Homo sapiens: one gene and its partner. The protein of the gene in region 2 interacts with the protein of the main gene of each other region in a pairwise test. Each region holds a gene or a part of one and is shown on either strand. Other genes may lie near its edges.

Region 1 (7,028 bases), on a different chromosome or scaffold from region 2:
CTTGAGTGTTTCTCCCTTCACTTCTTGTATCATTTTTGGATTTCCTTGCCTTGGGCTTTGCCTTTCTCTGGTCCCTCCCTGATTAGCTTAATAACTAACCTCCTGAATTCTTTTTCAGGTAAATCAGGGAATCTTCTTGGTTTGGATCCATTGCTGGTGAATTAGTATGATTTTTTGGGGGTGTTGAAGAGCCTTGTTTTATCATGTTACCAGGGTTGGTTTTCTGGTTCCTTCTCATTGGGGTAGGCTCTGTCAGAGGGAAGGTCTAGGGATGAAGGCTATCGTTCAGATTCTTTTGTTCCACGAAGTGTTCCCTTGATGTAGTATTCTCTCTCTTTTCCTATGGATGTGGCTTCCTGTGAACCAAATTGCAGTGATTGCTGTCTCTCTTCTGGGTCTAGCCACCCAGCAAGTCTACTCAGCTCTGGGCTGGTAGTAGGGGATGTCTGCACAGAGTCCTGTGATGTGAACCATCTATGGGTCTCTCAGCTGTGGATACCAGCACCTGTTCTGGTGGAGGGTGCAATGGACTCCGTGAGGATCCTTAGTTTTGGTGGTTTAATACCCTATTTTTGTGTTGGTTGGCCTCCTGCCAGGAGGTGGTGCTTTCCAGAAAACATCAGCTGTAGTAGTGTGGAGAGAGACTGGTGGTAGGTGGGGTCCTAGAACTCCCAAGATTATATGCCCTTTGTCTTCCACTACCAGGGTGGACAGGGAAGGACCATCAGGTGGGGGCAGGATTAGGCATGTCTGAGCTCAGACTCTCCTTGGGCGGGTCTTGTTGCGACTGCTGTTGGGGATGGGGGAAGAGATTCCTAGGTCACTTGAGTTGTGTACCTAGGAAGATTATGACTGCCTCTGCTGAGTCATGCAGGTTGTCAGTAAAGTGGGGGAAAGCCGGCAGTCACAGGCCTCACTCAGCTCCCACACAAACTGAAGGGCTGGTCTCACTCCCATGGTCTCACTCCCACCGTGCCCCTCTCACAACTCTGAGTCTGTTTCCAGGCCACAGGCGGGCAGCAGGCTTGCCCCAGGCTATCCGCCTCCCAGCTGCAAGAGAAAAGGGCTTTAGTTTTCCCCCTGCCGGTGAAGTCTGCATGCAGGATTTGCACCCTACCTTGAGTTCTGGTCAGGAGGCTTCTCACCCTGTTCAAATTGTTACAAAGTTCAGCTAGAGAATTCCTTCTCCCTGGGGAGTTTTATCCCCTGCTCCTCTGGCCACCCTCCCAATGGATCCCTGTGGTGCCAGGCAGGAATGGCCTGCTTGGGGACCCAGCAAACTCCCAGGGCCTTTCTGCTGCTTCCTCTACCCCTGTTATTTCGCTTGCCTCTCTAACTTGACTCAGCTCCAGGTAAAGTTGGAAACTTCTCCTGCAAACAGACCTTCAGCTTCTCCAGTGGGGGTGTGTGTTTGGGAGAGGAGGGTCTCCCTTTCCCATTTCTGCAGTTGGGGCACTCCCAATATTTGGGGTTTCTCCCGGGTGCTGCAGGAGCAGTCCGCTTTCTTCAGAGGGTCTGTGGGTCCTCTTGAGATTGCTGATTTTTTCTTGCAGTCAGTCTGGAGCTAACATTTGCAATCAAGCCTCCGCATGTTGCCCGGTCTGGAGCTTCAGTCTAGTCCTGCCTCCCGTCTGCCATGATCCCTTCTGTGATGCCATCAATTTATTTTTTCCCTTCTGTGATGTCATCAATTTATTTTTAAGTGTGTGTGTTGTTTTCTTTTTCTTTTTTTTTTTGAGAGAGTCTTGCTCTGTCACCCAGACTAGAGTGCAATGGCGCAATCTCATCTCATGGCAACCTTTACCTCCCAGGCTCAAGCGGGCCTCCTGCCTCAGTCTCCTGAGTAGCTGGGACTCACAGGCGTGCACCACTACAACTAGTAAATTTTTGTATTTTTTGTAGAGATGAGGTTTCTCCATGTTGCAGTTGTTTTACTTCTATGGGACTGATCCCTCTGCTTTTTAAGATTTTTCCCCAGCTGCACAATCTATATCTTTAGAACTTGATATGCGGCAGCGTTTCATAGATGTGTTATGGAAACAAAGAGTCACTGTTAATCAACACAGCTTCTTGAGAGCAAGAAGCTATTGAAACATCAGTTACTAGAGATTCCCAATGTGCCCAGTCACTGCGATAGATATTATGGTGAAACACATTTCAACACGTATAGTACAATGTGATGGATATGTACAAACATGTTCAAAATACTTATGGAAGGGCAAAGGAACAAGTAACTAGTAACTAACTCATCTGTATGGTATCATAGAAAGTTGTATGTATTAAGTAACATTTGTGTCTTGAAGAAAATGTAAGTCTTTTTTTTCTTTTTTTTTTTTTTTTGAGAAGGAGTCTCGCTCTTTTGCCTAGGCTGGAGTGCAGTGGCGTGATCTCGGCTCACTGCAAGCTCTGCCTCCCAGGTTCTGGCCATTCTCCTGCCTCAGCCTCCCGAGTAGCTGGGATTACAGGCATGAGCCACTGCACCTGGCCAAAGGAAATGTAAGTCTTAAAGTGGCAGAAGTATCCCAGGGAAAAAAGAACAGCATGCATATATGTAAGGAGAGAGGTATGACTTGGAATGGACATGCAGCATGTCCAAGGAACTGCAGGCAATTTGATGTGTCTGTAGTAGCATGCTTAGGGAGTGGTAGTGTGTCATGGGAGACAGACTAGAAAAATAGGCGGAGACCAGATCATAAAGAATTTGTGTATCATACTAACTTGTTTAGGTTGCCAACTAGTGCCACAGATGCAATACTAAAGCATTAAATCAATTTGTTTCCTAATTAACATCTCAAATAAAACTATATGAATAGTAGAGAGAAAATTACAGATTGACCTTACTCACCTTTCAACACTATTGAGATAAGAGGATCCATCATGGCCTCCTACTGCATATAACAGATCATCAAGAACACTGACCCCAACTCCGCATCTCCTTTTGCTCATTGAAGCCACCATTCTCCATTCATTGGTCTGTGGATCATATCGTTCAACACTGGAAATGGCATCTCCACTGCACCAACCACCAACTGGGGAAGTAACAGAAATGGTCAAGAGAATCCTATCCTGAAGCATAAAATGTAACACTCACTACTAACTTCACTGTGACCTAATGCTTAGACTCACCAAATGTCTCTAGTAGTAGGTCAAAATGCAAGTTATGACTTCAACTCATTCCACTGGGATTGCTATAATCTTTAATCAATTCTGTAAATAAGTTAGTATTACGTCTATTTTACAAAGGAAGGCAATGATACCAATTCACATAGGATTATGAGATAATATGTATATATGGATAGAATGGAGAAATTATAGATGGATATGCATAGAATGGAGAAATAAATTATAATTGTTTAATGTTTTTTCACAATTCCATGTGATTATGGGATGAGCTGCACATTGATATATAAATTAATGCATGTGACTCATTTCAACAAAACATCTACTGCACGACATTTTTATTTTTTATTTTTTGAGACAGGATCTTGTTCTGTTCCCCAGGCTGGAGTACAGTGGTGCAATCACAGCTCACTGCAGCCTTGACCTCCTAGGCTCAAGCCATCCTCCTGTCTCAGCCTCCCAAGTAGCTGGGACTACAGACATGCACTACCACACTCAGCCAATTGTTTTTCTTATTTTTTGTAAAGATGGGGCCTCCCTATATTGCCCAGGCTGGTCTCAAACGCCTGGCCTCCAGAAAGCTGTATAGGCATGAGCCACTGTGACCAGCCAACATTTTTGGATTTATATAAAAATAGATATTAAAGGTGTTGAATGAGAAAAAAGAATAGAGCACTCTTTTGGAGTATATCAGTGTGGAATCATGGGTTATGAGTCAAGCTATATGCTGACTTATTATTTGTGTCTTATGACAGTAAATATCATAATTGTCCAAAGGATTTTTCAAATGACAGTTTCTCACCTGGGAAAATACTCAATTTACTAACAGTATATTAAGATCCAAACCTGCAAAGAGTACTTCCCCACATCGGATAGGTTTCCGTGGTCTCGTCCTTGGTCCTTGCATTAGTGGTCGTTCTTGCGGCAATAGGAGGTAGTTTTTAGCCTCATCTACCAAGTCTCTGTAGAAAAAATTCTGCCTTTATTCCAAATATCTAAATTACATTGTTAGTTAAGTCCCAATGTAGTTTAGGAATATATAGGTTGGCAAAGGGAAGCAAGCATAAATCAAACCAAATCATGAATGCCAGCCAATATTAAAATTGGCACAAACATGAAACCAATAATGCCAGTCAAACTGAGTTGTGAATTGATTGGTATTTCCATCATGACTCATGTCTCACTGCAAATTTAGCCTAAAGCTCAACATGCTTACAGCCAACAATAACTTATAGAAAAGTAAAAATTACAATTTGATTACCACACTGCAGAGTTACTACTTTTTAATAAATTTTATTAGATTCTGCAAGATATTAGCAAGGTAGCACATCAGCCAGGGCAATAGTTATTTGCTAGATTAAAGTAATAAAACTGGGTCAAAAATCGGATTGCTGAAAAGAAACACTGTACTGCCACAAATTTGCTATCTGGTAACATATGAATGGTTTACTCTCAACAAGTCTACCGAGACATATTTCCTGTCTTGTTAAGACACTTTAAGAGAAGAGTCTAGTAATTACACATGTAATGACTTTGCAGTGGCTCACGCCTGTAATCCCAGCACTTTGGGAGGCTGAGGGGCGGTGGATCATGAGGTCAAGAGATTGAGACCATCCTGGCCAATATGGTGAAACCCCGTCTCTACTAAAAATACAAAAAGTAGCTGGGTGTGGTGGTACGCGCCTGTAGTCCCAGCTACTCAGGAGGCTGAAGCAGGAGAATCGGTTGAACTTGGGAGGCAGAGGTTGCAGTGAGTCGAGATTGCACCACTGCACTCCAGCCTGGCAACAGAGCGAGACTCCGTCTCAAAAAAAAAAAAAAAAAAGACAAAGACTTTGATCTCCTAATAGCTTGTTAGGTCATTTGAGGGTTCCTACAAATAATACTATAGAGCTATAATATTGAGCAAACCAACACAAAATTAATGGTAGTAACAACACTTACAGCTATGTGCTAGTCCTGGTTTTAAGTGCTTAATAGATATAAACTCATTTAATCTTCACAACAGCCTTATGGAATAGGCACTATTATCATCCTCACTTTATAGAGGAAGAAACTGCAGCAAAAAGAAGTTAGGATATCAGGAAGGGTCTTCTTTTAAATATGACTTCATAAGTACTTTTACTTTCTGCATCAGAATCAGTACAATACAATCTGATTTACTTTTAATGGAGGAGGGCATCTATGTATTATTTCTTCAGATTTCAGCATGTATAATGTACATGGTTTTCCTTTTTGCTACTGCAAATATTTAGGAGAATTAATTGCCATTTGTCTGTGTGTTTTTTTTTTTTTTTTTTGAGACTGAGTTTCACTTTTGTTGCCCAGGCTGGAGAGCAATGGTGTGATCTTGGCTCACCGCAACCTCCACCTCCCAGGTTCAAGCAATTCTCCTGCCTCAGCCTCCTGAATAGCTGGGATTACAGGCATGCACCACCATGTCCAGCTAATTTTTGTATTTTTAGTACAGATGCAGTTTCTCCATGTTGAGGCTGGTCTCGAACTCCTGACCTCAGGTGATACACCCACCTCGGCCTCCCAAAGTGCTGGGATTACAGGCGTGAGCCACTGCGCCCGGCCTGTCTGTGTTTTAAATATAGAATACAAAAATCTAGTTTAACTCTAGTCTATGGTAAACTGAAAAATGAAGAATGATTAATATAAAAAAGATACAATAAAATAAAATAGAAACATCTAAAATCCCCTCCAGCCTCTCCTGTTAAAAGAACAGGCTTTAGTTTATAGAAGAAATGCAAGTGAATCTACATGTCCTACCACCATTCTAGAATCAGGGATCATTCTAAATGTCTTTAATCACCAAGGGAGGTTCAAAGGTCAGTGTAGTTTACAAAGTTCTGAGTATGGATTTTCTCTTTCACTTTTATATTTGGGACATGCTGGGGAAAAATGGTTAACAATCCCAGATGATTTCAGATTTGAACCTAAATCTTACAATCTGTCAAATTGGGAATGTAATTTATTACATTTTGTATATACTTTAAAGACAGCCTAGTAAAATAGGTTGCTTTTTTCCCCCCCTTTGAAAAAGTAGTTAAGAGTTTCTTTCGTCAAAAAACCTCTGGAAACTGCTTCACCTAGTTTTAGTGAAAATCTTTCTACAGCTGTTTTAGAAAGTGGCAGATCTTCAACTCTGTCCACAATTTAGAAAGCAAGGCTGATTCTATTCCCCAACCAGACATATGTGATGGAAGGAAAAAATGTTCATTGACAGAGTCAACAGCATTATTTAATTATCTCAAGGAAAAAAAAAATATTAGCAGAGAATTGACTCTTTAAATTCAAGCCTGCATTAAAATCTTGGAAATCTACCTTTTTATTGCCACTTCTACACCAGTAAGCACCACACATAAAAACCTAATGGAATGAAACACTGGAAGTTCAGTTCTCTCTTCTTCTTTTCCTCCTCTTGACTCTAGCCCAGAAGAAAACCTTGTTAAATTAAAGCCCTGGTTTCAGCTCTGCAAAATACAATATTTAGGAAGCAATACAAATAAGGAAATTAGGAAAAAATAGGAATGCTTAGTTGTTGATTTTTCCCATCCAGGGTCACTCATACCTGCATTCTTCATCACTTTTGATGAGGGGATCAGAGCCTACTGTGCCGACCAGGAACTTGGGACTAAGCAAAGGCAAACGAACATGCTGCAGCACCTATGAGAAAATAAACACCATTATTTTAATTAATTAATTTTGAGATAGGTCTTACTCTGTTGCCTAGGCTGGAGTACAGTGGCATGATCGTAGGTCACTGCAGCCTCAATCTCCTGGGCTCAAGTGATGTGCCTACCTCAGCCTCCAGAGTAGCTGCAACTACAAGTGCATGCCACCATGCCCAACAAATTTTTGTATTTTTTTTTTTGTAGAAACGGGGAATCACCACGCTGCCC
Region 2 (6,495 bases):
CCGTGTCTACTGTCACCTAGGCTGTAAAGATGACAGAGGGCCGGAGTGGCTCTCCAGGCTGGGGCCTGGCATTTCACAGCGCTAGCGCCGTGACTTATGGACCACAAGAAGCTGTGATTTATACAACGTGAGGCAGAGCTCCTGGGCTCGTGACTTCCCTTCTGTGATGAAGTGAAGTGCCTTGCAGAAGCAGCAGCCGCTTAGCTGATGCGAGGGGACTCCGAGGCCCATCCATCTCCCTCTCTCCCCATGAGGCTGGGCAGCGTTTTGCTGAAGTGGCTGAACACAAGTGCATCTGTTACTGTCTCCAGAAACCATCAAAGAGCTGAACTTGTCCCTGAGAGGCAGCTCAGAGGGCAGGAAGGGGAGACCCACCCAGGCCAGCTGAGGCAGCTTCAGGACGCTCAGGGGGAAGCACTTGGTACCACGCCTGGCACAGGGAGGAGGCTCAGGAGCAAGCTTCTCTCTCCTGGAGCGACGGCCCGGAGTGCAAACATACCCACCTCCAGTGGGTGCCAGCCCAAGTGTGAGCTTTATTGGCTCATTAGCCCGCACGGCATCAGCCTGGTTTTACAGATGAGAAAAGTGAGGGTCAGGAATGTGAAATGGCCCGCCCAAGGCACACTCCCTAAGTGGCAGAACCACGCGGAAAGCACAGCCCTGACTCCACCCCGGTCTGTTCAGCGCTGGCCCCACCGGCAGAGAAGCAAGCTGGTGCTAATAATTCCACCCCACGTGGAACCGGCGCCCAGAAGCCCCGCTGGATCTTTGCCGCCTCGTCTTTTGGTGATAGTTGTTGTCAGGGCTTCCCTTTAGGTGGGCGAAAATATCTGTTTACTCAGGAATGGAGCAATTTCCCAGGCGAGTCTCTAACTAGCTAAATGCCTGGTCCTGCCTCCGTCGCAGGGAAGCCGCCCACTGTGAAACACGAGCCACTCAGCAGGGAAATGTTTAAGCGGCACCCGCACCCGCTGCACACCGGGAGCAGCGGGGCGGGGGCGGGGGCGTTCCCGGTGATTCCACACCCCGGCCCAGCATGGTGCCTGTCCCAGAAGCCAGGCCACACCCAGTGAGGCGGAACAGGGCTGGCGGAGGGCTGGACCCTGGACCACTGTGCAGGCTGTCCCTGCACTGAGTCAGCCGGGTTTAAATGGACGAGGTCGTGGTCCACTCGGTCCAGGGTAGGTCAACAGGGCACCCACACCCTCTCAGCCATGCAGGGGACCCTGGGGGAAGAAGGCTGGATTGGACCGTGGTCTCAGGCAGGGGCGTGGTCTGGCCCCTTCATCCTGGGCGTGCAGGGCTGTTCCATGGGGATCGTCGCAGAGTAGAGTGCACAGTGCCGGTGTGAGCCCACAGGGACAGCATGGAGGAGGGGGAGGAGTAGGTCCCCCCTCAGCCTTTGCCCCCACCAATGCTGACAACGGTGGGGCCAGCAGGGCTTCGGCCCTGGCTGGTGGGGCACTGTGGGGTGGGCTCTTCCAGTGTGGAGATGACCTTGGGCAGGGGCTGCAGGTTCCATTCACCCTGCAAGGAAGGGGGCAGGAGGTAAACTGAGGCTGGAGGGGCAAGATGGGTGGCTGCTTCCCCAGCCACTTCCCAGCCACCTCTTGGATTCTTGCCCTCAAACTCAGCTTGTCTCAAACTGAACTCACTCTGCTCCCCCAAGTTGCTTTTTGGGGGTCCTCACCTCAGTAAATGCCCCCTCCCCTGGCTTCCCATTCACCTAGTCAGGAACCTGGGAGTCATCCAGGCCTCTCCCCGCCTCTGTCCCCACCCAATTTAATCATTCACCCTAGTGTAGCAACCAGAGCCCCTGGCTGCAGGCTCTGATATTTTTTAGCTATCTCTTCCCCTCAAGGCTACACCAAATGCCAAGTTTTCAACCCCATCAGACGTCCACCCCACACTATTCTCAGCAAGCCAGTATTAGCCCTTCCTTCCCTTGGTGCTGAGGATGTTTGACTTAGCAGTTAATCTGGCTCCCAAATGCTTCTGGGAAGGATCTTCCTGGATCTCCAGGCTGCGGCACCTTACGCGACTAACTCTGCATAGGCCCTGGCCTCCTGACCACAGCCCAGTGGGCCCAGGATAAATTAGATGCCTTCGAATACCAGTGGGTCTCAGATAAGGAGGAAAAAACCAGCTCGCAGCTTCAGACTGGTTCGTTTCTTACCTTCCCCTCCCCTGGTGCTTTATTTTTAGGCAGGTTAGTGCGCCCTGCTCACACCACCTGCATTTGGCATTCGGTACAGTGTGGAGGTGTCACCAGAGAGGGTGCCTGCCCTCCCTTCCTTGCCTCGTTATTGGTTCTCTCTCTCTCCCTCTCTCTCTCTCTCTCTCTCCTCTCTCTCTCCTCTCTCCCTCTCCCTCTCTCCCTCTCCCTCTCTCCTCTCTCTCCTCTCTCTCCTCTCTCTCCTCTCTCTCCTCTCTCCTCTCTCTCTGCTGGCTGGCTGGCTGTCTAGGCCTATGTGTCACCACCTGGCACTTGCTCTCATTGTCTTGTGCGAGTGCTTTTGCCAGCAGTTTGGAGTGCAGACCCATCACCCCTCACTGGGGCCCCCCATGAGGCCTGCCTGACTGCATGCCCCACCCGGGCCCATGGCAGCGCACCTGGAAGCGGACGGCTGAGGACTTGTTGCAGTGCATGGAGATGGGCGCGAAGCTGTACAGGGCCTTCAGTACGTCGCGGTTGAAGGAGTTCCAGGGAACAGAGGTGAACTGCTGAGACACGGACGCCTGAGGGCAGGTGCAGACATCCTCGTTGTTGAACCTGGTGGGGACAAGGAACAGCCAGGCTGGGGAGCAGCTGACGGGCAGGGAGCCCAGTGGGCACCAGCAACACCTCCCTGCAACTCGAGTCCTGTCCCTGGGGCAACCGTCCTGCCACCTCCTCCCCAGCCCCGCTGCCTCCGCCAGGCCACCCCAGATGCTGCCTTCACCGGCAACGGCCTCACCTCTCCTGTCACCTTGGCGGGTGGGTAATGGCTGCTGCAGGCTGGGTTGAGGAGGCTCTGAAGCCAAATCCAGACTCAGCAGGAAACGAGTGAGGGGAGGGGTGAGTGATGCCGCCACAGGTCTCTGCTCCTAGAACTTAGCCTGGACTCCTCCAATCTGCCCAGCCGCCTAACAGGCCCGAGGTTCTGTGTCGGGGTTCCCTGGGGGCAGGGAGCTTGTGCAGGGAGCCCTCACCTGTTGATGAGGTGGAAGTACTTCTGCAGGAAGCCGGCGTCCACAGCGCTCTTGCAGAGCTCCAGCTGCGTCTGGGGGTAGTAGTGCACGTAGTTGACACACATCTCCTCCAGGATCCCGAAGCCCCCCTGCAAGTTGGAGGAGACCCGTCAGCCCCGGGCCATGCCACGCAGACGCTGCCATCCAGCAGCTTTCGCCGCACCCACGTGTACACTGCGTCCACTCGTCTGTTCACTGCACCGTGCCAGGCATGCTCTGGGGAACCGAGTCCCTGCCCTCAAGGAATTGCCACCATTGGCAGGAGAGACAGGCAGTGAGTGAGTGAGTCAACCAGGAAATTCGTATCAGGTACTGATGATGCTGTGAGGAAAAATGAAACGGGACAAGCGGATGGGGTGTTATTGTGCCCATTTTATGGGTACAGAAACTGAGTCTCAGAGCAGGCAAGGGGATGCCCCGTGGTGGCCACAGCATCGGTGGCACAGCCTGAGTGCACCCAGCGTCCCGGCCATTGTCTGGAAGCTGTCCCCATGACCTCCAGCGAGAGCCTGGAGCCAAGGACTGCAAGGGAGGCCCTTTCCACTGCAGCCCCGCACCGTCCACCAGTCATTTCTCCAACGTGGCTCTGAGGGGAGCAGGGACTCTATAAGACAGGACCGTGACTAGAGGCCGCGACAACCTCCAGCCTCTCACGGCAACCCTACGGCCTGCCATCGCATGGGAGGGGCAGGGCAGGCACCCTCTGAGTCCCCACTGCCAGCTTTAAGCCCCTCGCTGGGTTGCTGCTCTTGGAGCTGGTGACCGTGGAGCCTCAGCCATAGGAGGAAGAACAGCAGCAGCTTGGAGGAGCTGGGGCTGGAGAGAGCAAAGCTCCCCCGGCAGCAGCTCAGATCCCAGCAGGTCAGGGGCCGGGACATGACGCCCTGGCCACCCTTGCCCCTCCAGGCTCCCCGCTGTTTGTGAAGCTGCTGTGGGCCTGGGGATTTCATCTGGCTGGTGGGGAAGAAAGGCAATCTTTACTCTATGGCAGAACAAAGGGACTGGGCAAAGCTTGGCGTGGCACTTACACCAGCTGCCGCCCCCTCCTCCCGTGCAGACAAAGAGCATGGGACAGTTCTGCCCAGAGACGAAACCTGGCACCTGTTGGCCAGGACGCGTTTTTGCCAGCATTGTTCTCTGGGCCGGATTCCTCCTTTCCCAGCTTTTCTCATCCATCCCGCCCCCGTCAGATCGGGACGATTGCCCTCCTGTGTGAGTTCCTGTCCCTCCCCACCCTCTGCCACCACAGACATCAAAAGGGAACTGAGTCCGACCCTGTGTAGAATCTGTTCTCCTCTTTCACCTGGGGAAGGAAATCGAATTTCAAAGGCCACTGTGTCTTGGATCAGCAGGCGAGGGCTTGTCAGAGTGTGAGAAGCTCAGGTCCACCTGGGGAGCTGCCCTCCCCTTTGATCCCACCTGGTGCTGTGATGTGGCCACTGCCAAGAGGACGACATGGGCCAGGGAAGCCACAGAACTGCCCACGGGGACGCTGGCACCGAGGGCCTCAACCTGCAGAACGGCCATCTGAGATGTCCGCGGTGCTCACCAGGCCTGGCAGCCCCGAACGCCCTGGGACGTGGCGTCAGTTCCGCCGCCGTGAAGCCAGATTGGGCAGGGAATATGCAGTCTCCTCGCTGGATGCCCGGCAAGACCCTCCCATCCCTGGCCCCGGGGCCGCGCCTGCAGAATGGGGCTGATGGTGGGGACTTGCCTGGGGTGCTCCACCTGCAGAGCCCTCTGTTTGCGAGCCCACTCAGTCACTGCACAGGTGCTTAGCCGAGAGGCGGCACAGTCGGGGTTGGCACCTGCACCCATACCAGCCCTGCCTCCTGTTCGCTGTGTGGCCTGAGTGGCTGGACCTCACTGTATCTCCTGGTGGGATTGCTCAGAGGTCTCAGCAAGGCTTGGTGTGGTTAGGATGAGTTATTAGAGCAGTGCTGAGCTGTGGCAAGCACCCGACATCAGCCACTGCTGTGATATACTGAGCACCTCCTCTAGAGAGAATAAAGGACTGACAAAGCTGTCCTGTCTCCACCCTGAGTTTGTGATCAGGAACCTAGGACACTTGTCACCTGAAATCCAAGGGAGACAGGAAGGGTGGGGTAACAGCTGTGAGGCACAAGACCCTGGGTCAAATCCCAGCTCAGCCATCTATCAGCTGTGTGACTTTGGTCAAGTGCCTGCCCTCTCTGAGCCTTTATGTCTCACCTGTGAAAATACAAACACTGGCTGGGTGCTATGGCTCATGCCTGTAATCCCAGCATGAGGGATTACATGAGGAGTTTGAGACCAGCCTGGCCAACATGGTGAAAATCCATCTCTACTAAAAATACAAAAATTAGCCAGGCGTGGTGGTGGGTGCCTGTAGTCCCAGCTATTCAGGAGGCTGAGGCAGGAGAATCGGTTGAACTCGGGAGGTGGAGGTTGCAGCAAGCTGAGAACACACAGCCTGGGTGACAGAGCGAGACTCCGTCTCAAAAAAAAATAAAATATAAAATAAAATAAAATAAACCACTGGCAGTCTGGGCTCAGTAAACATCAGGTGAATCCACATTGGATTAAAACACAAAGAATAGGGCTGTGACATGGACCTGAGTTCCTGGCGCTGAGGGATGTCAGGGTAGCTGTAACCCAGGTCTGCTCCACTTGAGCCACACAATTCACAGGATAATTATTGGAGACCACCATGGTTACCGAAGCAGCTGGCACGGATCCACTGGCAAGGTGGCCCATTTGCCAGGACAGCCCTGGCTTGTGCCTGGGACCCAGGTAATTGTGAACAGCATCCCCTTTGGCTCCCGGAAGCAGCCCCGCTGCGTGATGCATCACGTGGCTGCCCGTGTCCTGGTGCTGCCTGCATACCCAGCCTTGAAAATAGATCTCTCCAGTGCAGATTCTCCTTGAACTGTCTGCAGTCCAGCCAAAATGCATCCTCAGCTGACGCTCATCCTGCCTGACCCCCACCCATGTCTCCACCCTCTCCTCCTCTCCTTTCCATCCTGAGAATGTTCTTGGTCCTCTGGGCCTTCCCGCACGCAGCCCCTGCACAGAGCCTTCCTTCACCTCCTCCCCTCTCCCCTGGGCTCCATGTGACAGCCACATTTCTGACAAGGCCCTCCCAGGTCCCCGCACCTCTGCCTCCTCAACCTGGTTTTTAAAGTTTTGTTTTGTAATTTTGCTTGTTGTTAGCAGCAGGTGCTCCAGGCCTGTCTCCCTGGTGCACCTTGAGCTCCACGGGGCAAAGGTCAACCTCTTGTCCTA

The links.
Region 1: the proteins of DBH (region 2) and KLHL20 interact in binary tests that used the Homo sapiens proteins (3 or more experiments, as listed by UniProt).

Annotation. Positions count from the first base shown.
Region 1 is NC_000001.11:173,752,977-173,760,004, reverse strand, and holds part of KLHL20 (kelch-like protein 20), read right to left. Parts: intron 6,793-7,028; coding exon 6,698-6,792; intron 4,083-6,697; coding exon 3,967-4,082; intron 3,030-3,966; coding exon 2,846-3,029; intron 1-2,845. UniProt on the Homo sapiens protein: Substrate-specific adapter of a BCR (BTB-CUL3-RBX1) E3 ubiquitin-protein ligase complex involved in interferon response and anterograde Golgi to endosome transport.
Region 2 is NC_000009.12:133,653,348-133,659,842, reverse strand, and holds the end of DBH (dopamine beta-hydroxylase precursor), read right to left. Parts: intron 5,257-6,495; exon of another isoform or gene 3,321-5,256; coding exon 3,193-3,320; intron 2,774-3,192; coding exon 2,614-2,773; exon of another isoform or gene 2,435-2,613; intron 1,528-2,434; coding exon 1,396-1,527; 3' UTR 514-1,395; downstream 1-513. UniProt on the Homo sapiens protein: Catalyzes the hydroxylation of dopamine to noradrenaline (also known as norepinephrine), and is thus vital for regulation of these neurotransmitters.